2 separate regions of the Homo sapiens genome follow, and region 2 is linked to region 1. The links come from fine-mapping of genetic effects on gene expression. Tissue or cell type: whole blood. Region 1 holds a variant in brackets; the other region holds the start of a gene. All regions are shown on one strand. Distances are between the middles of the regions. Region 1 has its middle 20 kb from the start of ABCB10. Region 2 holds the start of TAF5L (TATA-box binding protein associated factor 5 like).

The links.
Region 2: TAF5L starts here. The variant in region 1 is fine-mapped to the expression of TAF5L in whole blood (INTERVAL, PIP above 0.99).

The regions. Positions count from the first base shown.
Region 1 is chr1:229,576,096-229,581,472 of GRCh38, forward strand. No RefSeq gene overlaps it. Among named protein-coding and RNA genes, the nearest start is that of ABCB10, 20 kb to the left of the region's middle. The variant G/A (reference allele first, on the strand shown) is at 3,050.
Region 2 is chr1:229,623,782-229,629,158 of GRCh38, forward strand. It overlaps TAF5L (TATA-box binding protein associated factor 5 like), which reads right to left and starts at 2,341. Exons shown (of 5, transcript NM_014409.4): 1 at 2,104-2,341. It overlaps URB2 (URB2 ribosome biogenesis homolog), which reads left to right and starts at 2,466. Exons shown (of 10, transcript NM_014777.4): 1 at 2,466-2,575; 2 at 3,840-3,978. The coding sequence starts at 3,853. RefSeq lists enhancers at 1-405, 1,250-1,299, 2,960-3,039 and silencers at 1,790-1,979, 2,070-2,769.

The DNA of each region.
Region 1 (5,377 bases):
GGCGTGACCTCCATCATCCAGGCATGACCCTGTCATTTTTTTTTTTAAGAGACAAGATCTTGCTATGTTGCCCAGGCTGGTCTTGAACTCCTGGCCTCAAGTGATCCTCCCACCTTGGCCTCCCAAAGTGCTGGTATTATAGGTGTGAGCCACTGAGCCTGGCACTAATATAATTTTTATCATATCATCAGCCTGATAATCTGCATTTTACAGATGAGGAAACAGAGGCACAGAAATCATACATGGTTTGCTCAAGTAGTTCATGGCCCTGGGATGTAGATGGGTCTGACTCCAGACATGTGCTGTCAGTCACAGTGCTGCCCCAAGCTGCTCTGCAGTGAGGACCTTGCTCTTCCCACCCACCCTCCTGCCTTTTTGGGAGCTGTAGCTTGAGTTAGGGGGTTTACAATTTAATAAATGGATTCCTTGAGGCCCTAGAACATTCAAATACCTGGAAAGGTTGGCTACTTCCTCACTGATTATGTCAGGCTCACAAAAAGGCAGAAAAACATGGCAAATATCTCCACTATAAGATGTGTGTTTTTCTTTTTTCTTCCTTTTTTTTTTGAGATGGAGTTTCGCTCTTGTTGCCCAGGCTGGAGTGCAATAGCACGATCTCGGCTCACCACAACCTCCGCCTCCTGGGTTCAAGTGATTCTTCTGTCTCAGCCTCCCGAGTAGCTGGGATTATAGGCAAGCGCCACCACGCCCGGCTAATTTTGTGTTTTTAGTAGAGACGAGGTTTCTCCATGTTGGTCAGGCTGGTCTTGAACTCCTGACCTCAGGTGATCTGCCTGCCTCGGCCTCCCAAAGTACTGGGATTATGGGTGTGAGCCACCGTGCCCGGCCAACAATGTGGTCTTAAAGCGCTACAAGAGTGATTAAGGAAAATAGTTGGCCAAGCTGATGTTATGGCTTTGTTTGGGGCCATATCATCTGATCAGATCACATAAAACATGACAAAAATAAGATTTAAGTTTCAGACTAAGTGATGAAATTTGCCATAAAACTTGATTTTGAGCAACGTTTTAAAGAAATTCAGTTTAAGAGAGAGAGGAAATTTGTTTATTCTTATTAGTCTAGATCCAGGGCATTAATGTTAATGGGGATTTGTTAAACTGTTGGGCATATTTATCAAGAAATAGCAAAACCCAAATCAAAACAATTTATCAGGCAGGCTTAGCAAACATTTCAATTTAACAGATGTCTGAGTAGCTATCATGTGCAAGGTCAGCCTCTCTGTTAACTGAAAAATGGAGGTACCAATTGAACAAATCTGGATGTGTGATATTCACTCTCCATCAAATAGGCCTCATAACTTCTTCCTGAAGTGGGTGCCATCTAGGAGCAATTAGAGGGCTTAGTTGAAGTAGTGCTAAGTGTAACAGCATTTTATATTCGCTCATAGTTTCTGAACTGCACTTAAACACTCTCCTCTTGCCGGGTGCGGCGGCTCACGCCTATAATCCCAGCACTCTGGGAGGCTGAGGTGGGCGGATGACCTGAGGTCAGCAGCTTGAGACCAACCTGGCCAACATGGTGAAACCCCGTCTCTACTAAAAATACAAAAATTAGCCGGGCGTAGTGGTGGGTGCCTGTAATTCCAGCTACTAGGGAGGCTGAGGCAGGAGAATCGCTTGAACTCGGGAGAGGCAGAGGTTGCAGTGAGCCGAGATCGCACCACTGAACCCCAGCCTGGGCAACAGAGACTCCATCTCAAACAAAACAAAACAAACAAAAAAACACTCTCCTCTTTGAATTTGCAGAACACTGAATCTAGAGGTAGGAGGCTATGCTCCACCACCCAAAGTGATTGCCAGTTTCTCTGCCAGGAGTACTTTGGGTATTCTTCATTAAGAGGCTAGATCCATGGTATTACTGTCCAAAGGAATTTCTTAAACTATTGCACACACAAGCAGGAGAATCTAGAGCAAACATTGCTGATGTTCAACCTACTAGCAAACATTTCCATTCAATGATGTTGAGTCCCCACTATGAGCAAGGCATCTATTCACTGAAAAATGGAGTTATCAGGTGAACACCACCTCTACCTAACTGATCAATGAATCTCTGGTATCTAGCACAATGCCTGGCACACAATATATATTTTTACAAGTGGTAGTTTTTATTATTCCCTGATTTCTTTTTCTCCTTCCTTCCTTTCTTCTCTTTTCTTTCTTTTTTCTTTCTTTCTCTTTCTTTCTTTTTTTCTTTTTCTTTCTCTTTCCTTCCTCCCTTCCTCCCTTCCTTCCTTCCTCTTTCTTTTCCTTCCGTCCTTCCTTCGCTTCCTTCCTTCCCTCCCTCCCTCTTTTTCTCTTTCTCTCTTTCTTTCTTTCTTTCTTTCTTTCTTTTTTTCTTTCTTTCTCTTTTTCTTTTTCTTTCTTTCTCTTTCTTCAGTCTCACTCTGTTACCCAGGCTGGAGTGCAGTGGCATAATCTCAGCTCACTGCAACCTTCGCCTCCTGGGTTTTCAAGCGATTCTTCTGTCTCAGCCTCCCAAGTAGCTGGGATTACAGGCATGCACCACCATGCCTGGCTAATTTTTGTACTTTTTTAGTGGAGGTGGGGTTTCGCCATGTTGCCCAGGCTGGTCTCGAACCCCTGACCTCAGGTGATCCGCCCGCCTCGGCCTCCCAAATTCCTAGGATTACAGGCGTGAGCCACCATGCCCAGACCCTGATTTCTTCTTGTGTCTACTCCCACCCTCCCTCTGAAAATGTCCCAGAGCCCAAGAATCTATTAGCATTTGACTATAGCTTTGTTTTAGCTTCACATTGATTGTAATCTAAGGGCAAATCTGCTGCCACGGTGTGGCAGCAAAGAAATGAAAGGAAGTGTCTGGCAGCGCAGGGGAGAAATTGTGTTTCCTCCTTCTCCAAAGGTTCACCTTTTCTATTTCACCTTCATCATTCATAAGAAGGTGAAAGGATGCCAGGAGCAAGGCGGATCTACGGGACTTTTGAAAAGAAATGTACTGACCTTTGGCTGTAAAAACTGTGTCATGAGAACAGAAAGCCCTGAGAGAAGAAGTCAGAAAATAGAGAAAAGGG[G/A]AAGGGAAAATAACTCCTGGCCTGCCTCCAATTCATTTAAATATTGCTCAGAGCTCAGCAGAGCGGGATGAGAGACACTGGCAAGAGGCTGTGCTGCAGTAAATGAGAGAATCTCAGGTGTCCTTATAATGGCCCTGTTATGGATCGCAGCTTGGATGAGCACTTCACATAAATGCAAGGCCATTTCAGGACTCCCCAGCTGCAGTCAGCAGGCCCTCTGTATGCTTTGGCGTCTGCAGCTGGAAGGAAGCCTGCACAGCTCCCTTCTGTCCTCTCATTGTTCACAGGACAGCCATTCATGGGATCTATGGCGCACTCTGTGCTAGGGCAGAATGCCAGGGAAGAGCTGCCTGTCTTCAGCGCCCTTGCTGGGAACCACACGCCAGAACCCGACCCTGCCATGCTTTGTGCTTCAGGCAGCAGGACCCCACCCCTAACAGAGTCTCAAGTCAGACACTAAGCGATGATCACGACTTGGGAACTCAGCCAGGAAAGAAAAGACATACAGCTTGAAAACAATGTGGGAAATGGCTGAGAAAGAGAGGAAGATAAGAAATAAAGAGGGCTCTCTGAAGAGTGAGCTGAACTTTGGTTGTGACAGGTTCTCAATAGTACCAAAATCCATGAACTTTTTTTTTGAGGATTCAAAAAAGTTTATAATTAAAGAGAAATGCTTCTAATTAAGGAGACAGTTTTCTGTCTTTTGGGAGATGGGGTTTGTTTGTTTGTTTTTGATTTCTCTGTTATGCCTTTATATAATGAGCCCTTAACAAAGGTAATGATCATGAAGTAGATTACTACATGTACAGCACACTATGTTTCTGGGCATTTACTTATAGCTTGATATCTCCCCAAATTGCTTTACCTTTTTCTTCTTAGCTTGAGCAGAAATTACAGTATCTTGTCCCTCATTATACTTACCTATGGTTTTATTTATTATTATTTTTTCAGTTGGAGTTGCACTCTTGTCGCCTGGGCTGGAGAGCAATGGCGTGATCTCGGCTCACTGCAACCTCTGCCTCCCAGGTTCAAGTGATGATTCTCCTGCCTTAGCCTCCTGAGTAGCTGAGATCATAGGCGCCTGCCACCATGCCCAGCTAATTTTTGTATTTTTAGTAGAGACAGGGTTTCACCATGATGGCTGGGCTGGTCTCGAACTCCTGACCTCAGGCGATCCACCTGAGTCAGCCTCCCAAAGTGCTGGGTTTACGGGCATGAGCCACCACGCCCGGCCTATTCTTCTTTTTTTAAATCTAAATTTTATTTTTAGAGACAGGGTCTCACTCTGTTGCACAAGCTGGAGTGCAGTGGCACAATCATGGCTCACTGCAGCCTTGAACTTCTGGGCTCAAATGCTACTCCCACTTCTAACTCCTGAGTAGCTGGGACTATAGGCACATGCCACCATGTCTGGCTATTTTTTAATTTTTTTTTTCTTTTTTTTTTTTTGTAGAGACAGGGTTTCATTATTTTGCCCAGGCTGGTCTCGAACTCACGGCCTCAAGCAATCCTCCCAAAGTTCTGGGATTACAGGCATCAGCCACCGCACCTGGCCTGGTTTTATTCTGGGAGGCAAAAGTATTTTACCAACATAAATTTATGAGCCATCGGAACAACCTGTGAGTTAATTCAGATTTGAACTTTGTTTTATAGAAAGTCACAAACTTTGAAATATTGATAAATCCAGTAATATTGGCTTAATCAAGAAAGAGCATTTTATGGCATGGAGTAGGTAGGCATTAAAAATTGCCTTTCAAAAAAATTTTGGATACACTTTTATGAGCATAAGTCTCATTTTAAAAAACATCAAAAGAAACAAGAATAATTCAAAACACAAAAGTTGGTGCATTGAGTTAATATTTGCGACCCTCTTCCAATAAATTCATCCTTAAAAGTCCTACAGACAGTTGAGCTGAAGTCTCCTCAAAGTCAAAAGGAACCCAGACTGCAGTTTTGTTTCATGAATGAATAGCTATCTTTTGCCACACATTCATTTACTCAATCATTCAATAAGCATTATTGAATTACTGCCAATTATAGGCCGTTGCATCTTACTTTTTCAATTTTGGGGGGTAACGACTTTATTGAATTCACATACCATACAATTCCTCTTCTTAAAATGTACAACTCGGCCAGGCACAGTGGCTCACGCCTATAATCCCAGCACTTTGGGAGGCTGAGGCGGGCGGATTACCTGAGGTCAGGAGTTCAGGACCAGCCTGATCAACATGGCATAATCCTGTCTCTACTAAAAATACAAAAATGAGCTGGGTGTGGGGGTGCATGCCTGTAATCCCAGCTACTAGGGAGGCTGAGGCAGGAGAATTG
Region 2 (5,377 bases), 48 kb after region 1:
AAAGCTGAGGCGCAAAGAAGTTACACAGTGCCAGGATGGGAACTCAGGACACCTGGCTGAAGGGTCTGAGCTCTCACCTTCTACAGCATCTTGCTGCTCAAAGGATTCTACATGTGACCAGGGGCTTCCTGAGGGAGCACAACAATGAATGCTTACTAGAAGCTTGCTGAGAGAATGATCAGAACACTTACTACCTGAGAAGCCACCAGTCACATACAAGACAGGCTGGAAACGTGACTTCTAGTACTGTCCACTGAGTAATACTGGTTTAACAGATGACCCCTAGAGCTCCCTTCCAGCAAAACAAATTAGCAGAAACAAAACCCCCTTTCTTTCCCCAGAGATGTCCTTCACAGGTGCTAATATATTGCTTGCAAAACCAAAAACCAGTTACTGAGTAGTTAAGTGAGGCCTTTACCTAGTTTCACAGTGACAGAAGCTCACATAAGCCTCACATTTACAGGCAGGAGCAACAAAACTATTCCAAGATACACTAATTTAATTTGTTGTTGATGACAAAGAAAAATACTCAAAACAAGCCCACCTTTTAATTTTCTAGCTTAGCGCTGATTTTTAAGGCAGGAAGAATTTACGATTCATTAAAAAATTAGCATATATTCCATTTAACGCAAAAACTTAGGACTACAGGGAACCTAGAAGGTATTTTGCCAAAAAGGAAACGATAATAGCTAACATTTAGCTATTTTCATACACATCATTCTTTTTCTGGGTACCTTTAAAAAGGTCGTTTTTTGGGAGGCTGAGGCGGGAGGACTGCTTGAGCCCAGGCCTGGGCAACATAGAGGCACCCTGTCTCTTAAAGATAAAAAAAAATCCACGTTTAAGTTATTCCTTATCATCGCATTTTATAGATGAGGAAACTACAGTTCAGAGAGGTTATGCAGATGGCTACATGGTTTCCATCCTAGGTCTACTGTCACCAAGCTCTATCCACTACATTATGCTGTTCCAAAGTTTAAAGATGTGGCCAGATGCATTTAACCTATTAAGCACAAAACTCCCTTTCCTACTCCCCCTTCCAAGTAGAGCTGTGACCAGGAACTGGGGCACAGCCTCCGTGTCCTCCCCTACATCCCCAACTCAGGTGTTGGCACACTTGAATCGCCTGATATAAGACACGCTCCGCACTTAATGTTCCTCTCAGCACAGCTCCCAACTGCTTGTTAGCAGGAGTCACCATTCCGAGATTCCAATCTGCAAGGTCAGTTTAGGTACAGTAATTTAAGACAGACACTGCATGGGACTGGCACTTACCTTCTGATCCCAGAACCACAAAGACTGCGAGATCCGCATTACAACGACTTTCACAACTGATGGGAGAACTGCATGTAGCGTTCCTGCACTCCACTTCCGCTAAGTCTAAAATGACACCACTGTTTCTAACCATCCACTCACTTCGGACCAACGCCTTATCGAATACATTTTCAAAAGCCTGGCAGCTTCGCGAGCTGGAGGTGGTGAACCCGTCCCACACCATGGGCGCACCAACCTTACCTTGCTGTCATGAGGCAACGAGCCCCGAGAGACACCCTTGCAGGTAAGCACTCTCCTGCAGCAGCTAGTCTAACTCTGGCTCCCCCGTGTCACACGCGGAGATCGACTCCACACCCACCCACGCACGATCACCATGTGCAAAGTTGAATCCCGACTTCGCCGCAAAGACATTTCCTTTTCCCCTACATGCAAAGGAGCTGTGGAGCCGTGCTCCCTGCTTGGCTGTCGGGCACTGGGATACCTTCCCCGCGGGCGCCCGCCACCTCCTCCCCGAGCCCGGCATCCAACCCGCAGGACCCACCCCTGCGCAGGAACGCGACGCCAGTCCAGGTGTAGCCGCCGACTGCAGGCCACGCCGCCGGCCGCAGCCCGGGACTCGGGAGGCCGAGGGCGGAGGCGCGGCCGTCGCGCCCGCGCAGAGCCGCCCGCCGCCCCCCAGCCCCGCCTCCCGCGCCCCACCCCCACCGCCCGCCGGCGGGAGCCAAGGCGCGCCCCGCCGAGGCCCCACCGCCCCGGCCCCCGCCCGCCCGCGCGCGCGCGCGCCTCGCGACCCTCCCGGCCCTCCCCGCCCGTGCTCCCGGCACTCACTGAACATCCCAGGCGGCTCCGGCTCCCCCCGCCGCCGCCGCCTCCGGGATCGGGTTGCTTCCGCCTCCGTCGTCTCTGCCGCAGGGTCTCACTCCGACGGCCGGCTCAGCTGGGCCCCCGCGCCCCGCGCCCCGCCGCCCCCGCCGCCGCTCTGGGCGGCCGCTCCATGACTGACTGACACGGAGCGGGCCGCGGGCTGGGCCGCTCGGGCCTCCAACGCGCAACCGTCTCCGCCAATGGGCGAGGCGCCTCGGCGCTCGGCTGGCGACGCCTGGCGTGCGTGCAGCCCCTCCCCGCTGCGCCGCCGGCGTCCGGCGGAAGGAGCGCGGGTACCGGTCCCACGTGGTGGGGACGCGGGACCCGTACAGCGGCCTCCGCCGCACCGGGACAGCAGCCGCCGCCGCTGCCGCCGTCCTCCCCTGTCTACCCGGAGCTGTCTCGAGCTGAGCCCCCTACCGGGCCGGATCCCGAGGTGAGTCCCCCACCTGCGGTCAGCCCCTGCGGGCAGCCAGGTCCCGAGGTGAGTCCCCCCACCCGGGGCTGGTCCAGAGGAGATCCCCCTACCTAAGGCCGGGCCCAGATGGGGGGCCCCCCAACCCTGCCCAGTTCCGGTGCCGCCAGCAGACTCTGGGCTGGAGCGGCTTCGGCACGCTCCATTCGCGAAGGCGAACTCCCTCCTGGCTCCTAGCTGCTCTCCCCTGGTTCTTGTTGCTTGGTCTCTTTCTGCTGGGCAGGGAGTGCTGGCAGGGCTGTGCTGTCCGCCCTGGACTTCGCATTGCCCGGTAAGGGCGGTTGGAGGCCCGGAGAGCCGAACTCTGGCGGAGCCGGGGAGAGCATCTCGGTTGTCTTTGTAGCCAGTTCAGCAAACACCTGTTATGCACTTTGTAGCTGTCGCGATGGCGGTTCTATGGTATTGAACTTAGAAAGTCAGGCATCGTTGAATTCGTTTTGGACATTTTGACAAAATAGGAAAACTGACAGCACTTGACGTTCTTGTTCTCTGCAGTAGAGTGAAGGATAACTTAATTTCTAAAATGAAAACGTCTTAACGTTCCTTTTTACTATAACTTTTAGGAAACTCAAAGCCAAGTTTACCCAGTTTAATAGTAACTGTAGGTGTTTGGTATGTTTGCTACCCCCGAGATTTCATGGTTTTTTGTTTTCTATTTTTAGTCTTTTCCTTGTGCAAGTATCTCTTGTAGAGTCTTTTTTGAAGTGTATGTGCGTTGTAAATTTATACACGACTGAATAAAAGTGTTAGTGGAAGGTTACTGTTGCAGCTGAAATAACTGTATTCCTTTGGGGTTTTCTTTTTCACTTGGAGACATATTACTTTCTCCGGATATTGCTTATGTATCTTTTCCTCTTTCAATTTGAAACCATGTATGAATGACTCTTTCCACAAGTAATGTAATCACTGATTTTGGCCTTGTTGAATTCCTGAACACTCACCTTTGTGGAAGTGATGTTTGATCATAGCTGGAATACATATAGTCCATCTTCTGTGTGTGCAGTCCATCTTTTGCTTGCTTTTGTCTGAATTTCCCCCAGAAAATTCTGGAGTCAAGCATCTTGTATGTAGATTTACCCCGACAAATCTGTTGATTCATTAAAAACTTTTAAAAGAATACATATTAGGTAAACAAGATACAGTACTGCAATACTGTTGGTTTTCTGGTGCCTGCTCAGTCTGACATTGTTATAGTATTTTTTTTCCCATTGTTTTTAAATTTTAGATAAAGCCTAGCCATGGCTGCTGTTTATTCTGGCATTTCCCTTAAGCTTAAAAGCAAGACAACTTCCTGGGAAGATAAACTAAAACTAGCTCACTTTGCTTGGATTTCTCACCAGTGCTTTCTTCCAAATAAAGAACAAGTAAGTTTAATGTGAAACTCATATTTTTACAGTCTGTCAAGATAATTATCACTTTTATAATTTGGATATTGACAATTGGTTAAAATAAAAAAATAGAGAAAAAGTTGGGGAGGGAACTTTGTTGGAAGTTAAATGTAATGTCAATGAAAAAAGTAATGAGTCAGGTACTTCATTAATACATTTTTTTTTTCTGTTAAAAAACCTCATTTAGGTCGGGGACAGTGGCTCATGCCTGTCATCTCTATTTTGGGAGGCCAAAGCGGGGGATCGCTTGAGGCCAGGAGTTCTAGACCAGACTGGACAACATAATGAGATCCCATCTCTTAAAAAAATTATATATATTATATATGTATATATATGTATATATACATATATAATATATATATAATATATATAGTATATGTATAGTATATATGTATATAATATATATAATATATATGTATATATATTATACATATACATATTATATATGTATATATATTATACATATACATATTATATATGTATATAAATTAGTCAGACATGGTGGCATGTGCCTGTAGTCCTTACTACTTGGGAGGCTGAGGTGGGAGGATCCCTTGAGCCCAGGAGTTTGAGGCTGCAATGAGCTATGATTGTGCCACTTTCACTCCCAGCCTGGGCGATAGAGCAAGACCTTGTCTCTTTAAAATAAATGAACCCACCGAATTTAGCATTTCTTTTGTTTGGAGACATTATATTACAAACTAAGTATATGCATTAATGAACACATTGGGAATTAAGTTACAGAAGTTAGGTTCTGAAAGTCCATTGATAGCTGCATTTGCTTATAAATCCAAAGTGATGTTTCTTAAACTGTTGGTTGGTGGTGCTTTGTTAAAAGTCTTCCGCATTGGATAAATTGAAGGTTGGGAAGTAGAGAAATGTTAGTATTTGTATAAAGCCATTTTAGAAATGGGCTAGGTACCAAGAAAGGCATTGCATTTTGTTAGAATTTCTCAGGCTTTTTAGGCTAAAAATTAGTTGGCATGATAAACACCAGGATGACAAGCTCATGAAATTGGATTAATACACATCCAGTTGCTGTTGTCAAGGAAGACAGCACAAAATGCTTCCAAGATGGATGACATATGTAAAGCGATGATGACGTGTGGTGTGGAGAGCAGCGGTCATATCCAGTGCTTTCTACACCTGGCTGCACTTGGGAGTCATCTTGGCAGCGTGGCCATCACCTGGCAGGTGCTGCCCAGGGTGAAACAAAGGGGAGGCTCTAGCAGCCAATTGGATCAAGGTTTCTGCTGTTGTTATACTGAGAGATTTTATTCCTTCTGGCATCTGTCACTATTCATACTGTTATTGACAGTTCTGGGATTGTGAGCTTTCTTCAATGTTTTGTGAAGAGGAAACATGACACGTAATG